Homo sapiens: one gene and its partner. The protein of the gene in region 1 purifies or fractionates together with the protein of each later gene. This does not show direct contact. Each region holds a gene or a part of one and is shown in the gene's direction. Other genes may lie near its edges. The genes, in order: GMFG and CLSTN1.

Region 1 (4,281 bases):
CTTTTATCTTCTCACTGAAATACATATGGTTTTTGTGTGAACTACATTCCTTTTATTTCTTCTTTATATGACAGTCAGGACATTATATTGATTTTTTTTTGAATTTATGTGTGTAAGTAGGTTATATTATCTAGGAATTTTATTTCGGGATGGGAAAAGGGGGCAGTGCAAAAATACTCAATAAAAAAAATAGCCGGGCATGGTGGCTCACAGTGGCTCACACCTGGAATCCCAGCACTTTCGGAGGCTGAGGCAGGTGGATCATTTGAGGTCAGGAGTTCGAGACCAACATGGCCAACATGGTGAAACCCCATCTCTACTAAAAATACAAAAATTAGCCGGGCGTAGTGGCACGTGCCTGTAGTCCCAGCTACTTGGGAGGCTGAGGCCGGAGAATGGCTTGAACCTGGGAGGCGGAGGTTGCAGTGAGCTGAGATCGCACCACTGCACTCCAGCCTGGGCGACAGAGTGAGACCCTGTCTCAAAAAAAAAAAATTGGGTACCGGTCTGACGGGATTGAACTCCCTTGTTGTAGGGCCTCATAGGTCATTGCAAGGCTAGTGAGGTTGGAAAAGTGCAGGAAAAAAGTCACCATTACCCAGGCACTGTGGGGTTGCCCCTCTGGTCCCCATTTTGCCATTGACATAATGGGCGTCAGTCTGACCAGCAAAAGACTAAACTCCCCTTTTCCAGCCCTGCAATTCAAATATCCCAGATGGGGGTAAATCTAGGAAGGCCACCTGGAGGAGGGGAGGAGCAAAATAGTTCGTTTTTAGTACCTATTGTGTCTGCCATGCTGGCAGCTATGTGAAGCTATTTATTTATTTATTTTTATTTATTTGTATTTTTATTGCCTGGGATAGAGTGCAATGATGTGATCTTGGCTCACTGCAACCTCTGCTGCTCGGATTCAAGCAATTCTTGTGCCTCAGACTCCCGAGTAGCTGGGATCACAGGCGTGCACCACCATGCCAGGCTAATATTTTGTATTTTTAGTAGAGATGGGGTTTTGCCATGTTGGTCAGGCTGGTCTCCAACTCCTGACCTCAGGTGATCCGCCCGCCTCGGCCTCCCAAAGTGCTGGCATTACAGGTGTGAGCCACCATGCCCGGCCGATGTGAAGCTATTTATATCCTCACCACAATCTCAAATCAGAGGGGTGAAGTTACTTAGCTAGGGTCACACAGCAAGGAAGCTTTGGAACCCTGGTCTGAGCGATTTCCTGACAGGTCCTGGCAGATGAGGGGAAGGAAGGAGGGGGAGGAGCCCTCTGTGACAGTTGTCCCAGAAAGGGCATAAACAGGATGTGGTGTTGGATGAAACCTTCCTCCTACTGCACAGCCCGCCCCCCTACAGCCCCGGTCCCCACGCCTAGAAGACAGCGGAACTAAGAAAAGAAGAGGCCTGTGGACAGAACAATCATGGTCAGGGGCCAGGGGTTCTATGGGAAGAGCTGGGGCTGGGGTTGGGGCTGGGGCTTGGAGGACACCTGGGCGAAGGTCAGGCTATGGGATGGAGGTCACGGGCCGGGAAGGGGGCCCAACTGTGGTGAACAGCCCGGCTGGAAGAACAGAGAGACAGTGGCTCTGGGTTTAGGCTCAGGAAGTGGATCTCTGCACCTCCTTGAGTGTCCCCCAAGAGTCCCCGTGGAGAAGGCGGGAACCCAGCCTCTGCTCCGCCCCCCAAGCTGAGTGCCCTGGTGAGGGGTATCTACTCTGTGGGAAGGGTGCCTTTTCTCAATGTTCACAAAGGCATCAGATGGGCCGGCGCGATGCTCCTCTTCATTAGTGGATGGAGAAACAGGTTTGGGGAAGGGGTGAGGGCTGAGGCCAGGCCATTTCAGCTCTTCCTGGGTCCCTCCGGCAGTCTGACTCCCTGGTGGTGTGCGAGGTAGACCCAGAGCTAACAGAAAAGCTGAGGAAATTCCGCTTCCGAAAAGAGACAGACAATGCAGCCATCATAAGTGAGTGACATCTTCCCCCACAGAAGGATGGGAGGGCGGTGGTGAGGGCAGATAGGGAGGGCTGGGCTTGTGTCCCCCATGGATCAGGGGGAGTGTCTAATCCCTGTGTGCCACCCCTCCCCAGTGAAGGTGGACAAAGACCGGCAGATGGTGGTGCTGGAGGAAGAATTTCAGGTGATGGGCTGGGGTGATTGGGACTGGGAGGTACAGGGTGAGACTGGGAGAACCAAGTGGTTGGAACTGATATGAAGAGCCTGGCATGGGGGTAGAAAGACCTGGAGATTGGCCGAGCACAGTGGCTCATGCCTGTAATCCCAGCACTTTGGGAGGCCGAGGCAGGTGGATCACCTGAGGTTGGGAGTTCAAGACCAGCCTGGCAAACATGGTGAAACCCCATCTGTACTAAAAATATAAAAAGTTAGCTAGGCATGGTGGTGGGCACCTGTAATCACAGCTACTTGGGAGGCCGAGGCAGGAGAATCGCTGGAACCCGGGAGATGGAGGCTGTAGTGAGCCGAGATTGTGCCACTACACTTCAGTCTGAACCACAGAGCAAGACTCTGTCTCAAAAACAAAAACAAAAAACAAAAAAACAAAAAACCCTGGAGATCAAGTTCTAGCTCACTCATGACCCCCAGCAAGAGACTTTGCCTGTTTGTGTCTCTATTTCCTCATCTGTGAAATGGGGAGAATAGTACTTATCTCATAGGCTTGTTTTTACATCCAGTGATTTAATTCTTGTAATGGGTTTAGAACAAGGCCTGGCACTTAGTATGTGCTCAATAAGGTGATGATGATCTTAATAATGATGATAATAATGCTTTATTGGCATTTAAATGAAAGAGTTTCCATATAAGTTAAAAAGCTAGCCAGGCATGGTGGCTCATGCCTGTAATCCCAGCGCTTTGGGAGGCTGAGGCAGGAGGATCACTTGAGCCCAGGAGTTTAAGACCAGCCTGGGCAACATGGTAACACCCTAACTCTACTAAAAATACAAAAATTAGCCAAGCACAGTGGTGTGCACCTGTGATCTCAGCTACACAGGAGGCTGAGGTGGGAGGGTTGCTTGAGGCTGGGAGTTTTGAGACCAACCTGGGCAACAAAGCAAGACCCCATCTCGGCTGGGTGCCGTGGCTCACGCCTGTAATCTCAGCACTTTGGGAGGCTGAGGCGGGCGGATCACAAGGTCAGGAGATCGAGACCATCCTGGCTAACATGGTGAAACCCCGTCTCTACTAAAAATTCAAAAAATTAGCTGGGTGTGGTGGCGGGTGCCTGTAGTCCCAGCTACTCGGGAGGCTGAGGCAGGAGAATGGCGTGAACCCCGGAGGCGGAGCTTGCAGTGAGCCAAGATCGTGCCACTGCACTCCAGCCTGGGCGACAGACTCTGTCTCAAAAAAAAAAAAAAAAAAAAAAAGACTCCATCTCTACAAAAAAAAAAAAGGGGGTAGACCTCACCCCCCTGGTGGCCTCACTGTCTTTATCAATAACAAGAATGATAATAAGGCTTATTTCTCTAGTGTTGCGATAAGGATTTATAAGGGAATCCATGGAGACTGGGGGCTGGGGCTCTCTCAGGCCCTCTGAAAGGCAGTATAGTGAAGCAGTTATGATTCGAACCCAGATTCAAATCTCAACTCTGCTGCTTTCTATCTGTGCAATCTTGGGCAAATGCCTTAACACCTCTGGGCCTCAGTTTTCTCAGCTGTATAGTGGGCATAATGATGGGACCTACCCCACAGACTTACGGGATAGTTGCATGAATTAATCCATGTGTGTTTCATAGAACGATGCCTTGGCACATGGTAAGTGCTCACCTAAAGGTGGTCATTCTTTTTTTTTTTTTTTTTTTTGAGACGGAGTTTCGATCTTTTTTGCTCAGGCTGGAGTGCTATGGCACAATCTTGATTCACTGCAACCTCCGCCTCCCGGGTTCAAGCAATTCTCCTGCCTCAGCCTCCTGAACACGCCTGGCTAATTTTTTTGTTGGAAATGGAGTCTCACTCTGTCTCCCAGGCTGGAGTGCAGTGGCGCGATCTCGGCTCACTGCAACCTCTGCATCCCGGATTCAAGCAATTCTCCTGCCTCAGCCTCTCGAGTAGCTGGGACTACAGGTGCATGCCACCATGCCTGGCTAATTTTCTGTATTTTTAGTAGAGACGGGTTTCACCCTGTTAGCCAGGATGGTCTGAATGATTTCCTGACCTTGTGATCCGCCTGCCTCGGCCTCCCAAAGTGCTGGGATTACAGGTGTGAGCCACTGCGCCCTGCCTCATTCTTTGTCTTTTCTTCTGTTTTCTTGCCTCAGAACATTTCCC
Region 2 (3,808 bases), on another chromosome or scaffold:
TCTTGGCTCACTGCAACCTCCACCTCCTGGGTGCAAGCAATTCTCCTGCTTCAGCCTCCCAAGTAGCTGGGACTACAGGCATGCACCACCATGCCCAGCTAATATTTATATTTTTAGTAGAGACGGGGTTTCGCCATGTTCGCCAGGCTGGTCTCAAACTCTGACCTCAGGTGATCCACCCGCCTCGGCCTCCTGAAGCGCTGGGATTACAGGCGTGAGCCACCATGCCTGGCAAATAGCCGTTTCTTAGAAACCTCAATTCCTAGTCATGATTTACAGTGCCTGATTTCTGTACCAGAATGAGACACATTGCTGAAAATTTGTCCCTTTTCCTTTTCAGTTTAAGAACAAGGTTTAGTGTAACCTGTTTCTGGCTCTTTGTTGTCATCTGTCAAGGGCCATTTTCTGGGTTTTGGTTTTCGTTGTAACATCTGCACTTCTCAGCAATCCTCAGGAGGAGGCAGGAAGGATGGGACTTAACACCATAGCATCCTTGAAATAGGCCGTTCCATGCAGGGAGTATTTTAAGCCTCCCTTTTATCCTCCCTGCCTCGCTTGTGTGGGTTCATTCCCCAGGGCGTGCCAGGTAGAGAAAACAGCCATGTGGAACCCAGCCAGCTGAGAAGGCAGTGGCTGGAGAGGCTGGTGGCGTAGGAAGTGTCACCATGCACCCTGGTGATGAGAACAGGGTAGGCCACCTTACCAGGTAGTGGCCAGAGGTGTGGGGACCCTCAGGGGACCTCTTGGCTTCAGGTGAGACACCCCCAACTCTCCCTTTCTCCAGGCCATGTGCATGATCATAAACGGTTTAATTTCTTCATTGCGCTTCCATGTAGATTGCAAGGCTAACAGGACTTGGTATGAACTAACCCGCATGTCCATCCACTGAGCTGCCAGCACCGGTAACACCGTGTTGAGTGAGAAGTGAGTTGGGCGATGCTGGGTTGCACGCCTGACTTCGCCTTTTCTCCCCTGACCCAAAGGTGGCGACCTGCACATGACCCAGTTTTTCCGAGGCAATCTGGCTGGCTTAACTCTCCGTTCCGGGAAACTCGCGGATAAGAAGGTGATCGACTGTCTGTATACCTGCAAGGAGGGGCTGGACCTGCAGGTCCTCGAAGACAGTGGCAGAGGCGTGCAGGTAACACCGAGCGCTCGACTGCACACCACTCATGGGCCCCTTAGACTACAGCCCCGGAGGCTGGTGGGATGAGGGAGTGAGTAATCTGTGATTGATACGTTTACTGTTGGGTAAAAGAGTTGTGTTCACTGGACTTAAACGAGCTTTTCTTTTTCAAGTCAGCAATTCAAATCGAACCCAGGCCAGTCCCCTTTGTGGAGGCATCTGTGGTTTCAGCTCCTGCGGTTACTGGCTTATTCTTCTCCTCTCTGTGGCTGGTGTGATTTCAGATCCAAGCACACCCCAGCCAGTTGGTATTGACCTTGGAGGGAGAAGACCTCGGGGAATTGGATAAGGCCATGCAGCACATCTCGTACCTGAACTCCCGGCAGTTCCCCACGCCCGGAATTCGCAGACTCAAAATCACCAGCACAATCAAGTACGTCCTGATTTTTAACAGCCGGCCTGTTTTGCCCAATGACACTTGTATATTTAGGTTTTTAAGACAGCCTAACCCCTTCTGTAAGGAAAGGTGAGCCATCGTGTGTAACCAGAAAGTGTGGGGCAGAGAGCTGAGTGATATTTACGCATCTTGTTTGCAAGTGTGTTCCTGGAGTGGCCCCGGCAGGTGTTAGTGGGGGCCTCTGTATCCCACCTCCATGTGCCTTTGCACAGGTGGGCTCCAAGATCGGCTCCCAAAGCCCTGACCCTTCCCCATTTCTTGCTGGCAGGTGTTTTAACGAGGCCACCTGCATTTCGGTCCCCCCGGTAGATGGCTACGTGATGGTTTTACAGCCCGAGGAGCCCAAGATCAGCCTGAGTGGCGTCCACCATTTTGCCCGAGCAGCTTCTGAATTTGAAAGCTCAGAAGGGGTGTTCCTTTTCCCTGAGCTTCGCATCATCAGCACCATCACGAGAGAAGTGGAGCCTGAAGGGGACGGGGCTGAGGACCCCACAGGTAATGTGCTCTGTGGGGCGCGGGCTCCCTCGCCTCGGCCGGAAACCCCATTGTCCCCATGTACTTGGCGGGGCTCTTTGTCTCTGTGGGATTTGGGGAGGTTTTAATCTTTCGTTGGTGTTCTCTCGGGTGTGCTTCTGGAATCTGACCCGTGAGCTGGAGCTCATGGTGATCTCTGGAATCCCATCTGGAGGGGTCTTACATCTTTTCCTGGTTGCTGCCAGGCTTTGAGATGTGGCTTGAGGTTGAGGGGTTGAGGGCACTTACGGGAGACACTGCTTGCACCTGCCAGGCTGGCCAGCCCATGGAGGCACAATGTCCCCACAATTCTTGCTCAGGACACATGAAACTCCCCCCCTTTTTTTTTTTTTTTGAGATGGAGTCTCACTCTGTCGCCCAGGCTGGAGTGCAATGGTGTCATCTTGGCTAACTGCAGCATCCACCTCCTGAGTTCAAGCGATTCTCCTGCCTCAGCCTCCCGAATAGCTGGGATTACAGGGACCTGCCACAACGCCCGGTTAATTTTTGTATTTTTAGTAGAGACGGGCTTTCACCCTGTTGGCCAGGCTGGTCTCAAACTCCTGACCTCAGGTGATCCACCCGTCTTGGCCTCCCAAAGTGCTGGGATTACAGGCGTGAGCCACTGCGCCCAGCCGTTTCTTGAAAGCAACTCTCGCTTGCTTCTGTCGTTGGTCCTTACGAGAGCCATGTAGGTTTGGGGTGAGCCGGCAGGGCATCCAGTGTGCCCCGCCACGCTGGGCCCCACTGCCCCTACTTAATATTTCTGGTTGGGCCTCTTTTGCAGTTCAAGAATCACTGGTGTCCGAGGAGATCGTGCACGACCTGGATACCTGTGAGGTCACGGTGGAGGGAGAGGAGCTGAACCACGAGCAGGAGAGCCTGGAGGTGGACATGGCCCGCCTGCAGCAGAAGGGCATTGAAGTGAGCAGCTCTGAACTGGGCATGACCTTCACAGGTAAGGGGAGCGCTGCAGCCACGCAGGTGGGCCAGGCTGCAAGAGGGGACTTTGAGAGCTCTTGGCTGGCTGCTGCCTGCCATCTGAGAATGTTGAGTTATCTTAGAGGGAGATGGGGAAGGAGCACGTTCGCTGGGATCATTGTTGGCTGCACGCATACTCCTGTCTCCTGGACAGGTACCGGATGTGTAGCCACTACTCTCTAAAGGGGGAGGGTTGAGGCGTGGGATGACACGTCCCCCACAGAGGGAAGAATGCCCCTGTGCACATTGCATTTATTCCCATGGCTAGAAAGCCAACTTGTGTGACCCCTTGGCCTAGCTAACCTGGGTGTCTAATTGAGCCTGCCTGTGCTGACGGCTGCAGCCCTGCCCATGCTCCTGCCCTAAGCCACCCGGCAATCTTCCCCCTTTCAACCCCTGCAGGCGTGGACACCATGGCCAGCTACGAGGAGGTTTTGCACCTGCTGCGCTATCGGAACTGGCATGCCAGGTCCTTGCTTGACCGGAAGTTTAAGCTCATCTGCTCAGAGCTGAATGGCCGCTACATCAGCAACGAATTTAAGGTGGAGGTGAGTACAAGGCTCCCACTGAGCAGGGCCAATAGCAGCAGTGAGTGAGGGCGCTGATTTGCAGCCCTAATATTCACAAACGCCAACCTCAGAGCATTCATGATGGCAGCTATACAGGCTCATTCTAGGGGGTCGCCTTTCCAGCCTGGGGCCTGCTGCAGGTTACACCTGGGCTTGTTGGAG

Evidence for each region.
Region 2: the proteins of GMFG (region 1) and CLSTN1 purify together in Homo sapiens (affinity purification with mass spectrometry; one large-scale study listed by BioGRID and IntAct). This does not show direct contact.

The regions. Positions count from the first base shown.
Region 1 is NC_000019.10:39,333,117-39,337,397, reverse strand, and holds the start of GMFG (glia maturation factor gamma), read left to right. Parts: upstream 1-1,354; 5' UTR 1,355-1,421; coding exon 1,422-1,424; intron 1,425-1,843; exon of another isoform or gene 1,844-1,866; coding exon 1,867-1,963; intron 1,964-2,087; coding exon 2,088-2,137; intron 2,138-4,271; coding exon 4,272-4,281.
Region 2 is NC_000001.11:9,733,218-9,737,025, reverse strand, and holds part of CLSTN1 (calsyntenin-1 isoform 1 precursor), read left to right. Parts: intron 1-983; coding exon 984-1,141; intron 1,142-1,410; coding exon 1,411-1,559; intron 1,560-1,851; coding exon 1,852-2,078; intron 2,079-2,883; coding exon 2,884-3,054; intron 3,055-3,479; coding exon 3,480-3,625; intron 3,626-3,808. UniProt on the Homo sapiens protein: Postsynaptic adhesion molecule that binds to presynaptic neurexins to mediate both excitatory and inhibitory synapse formation.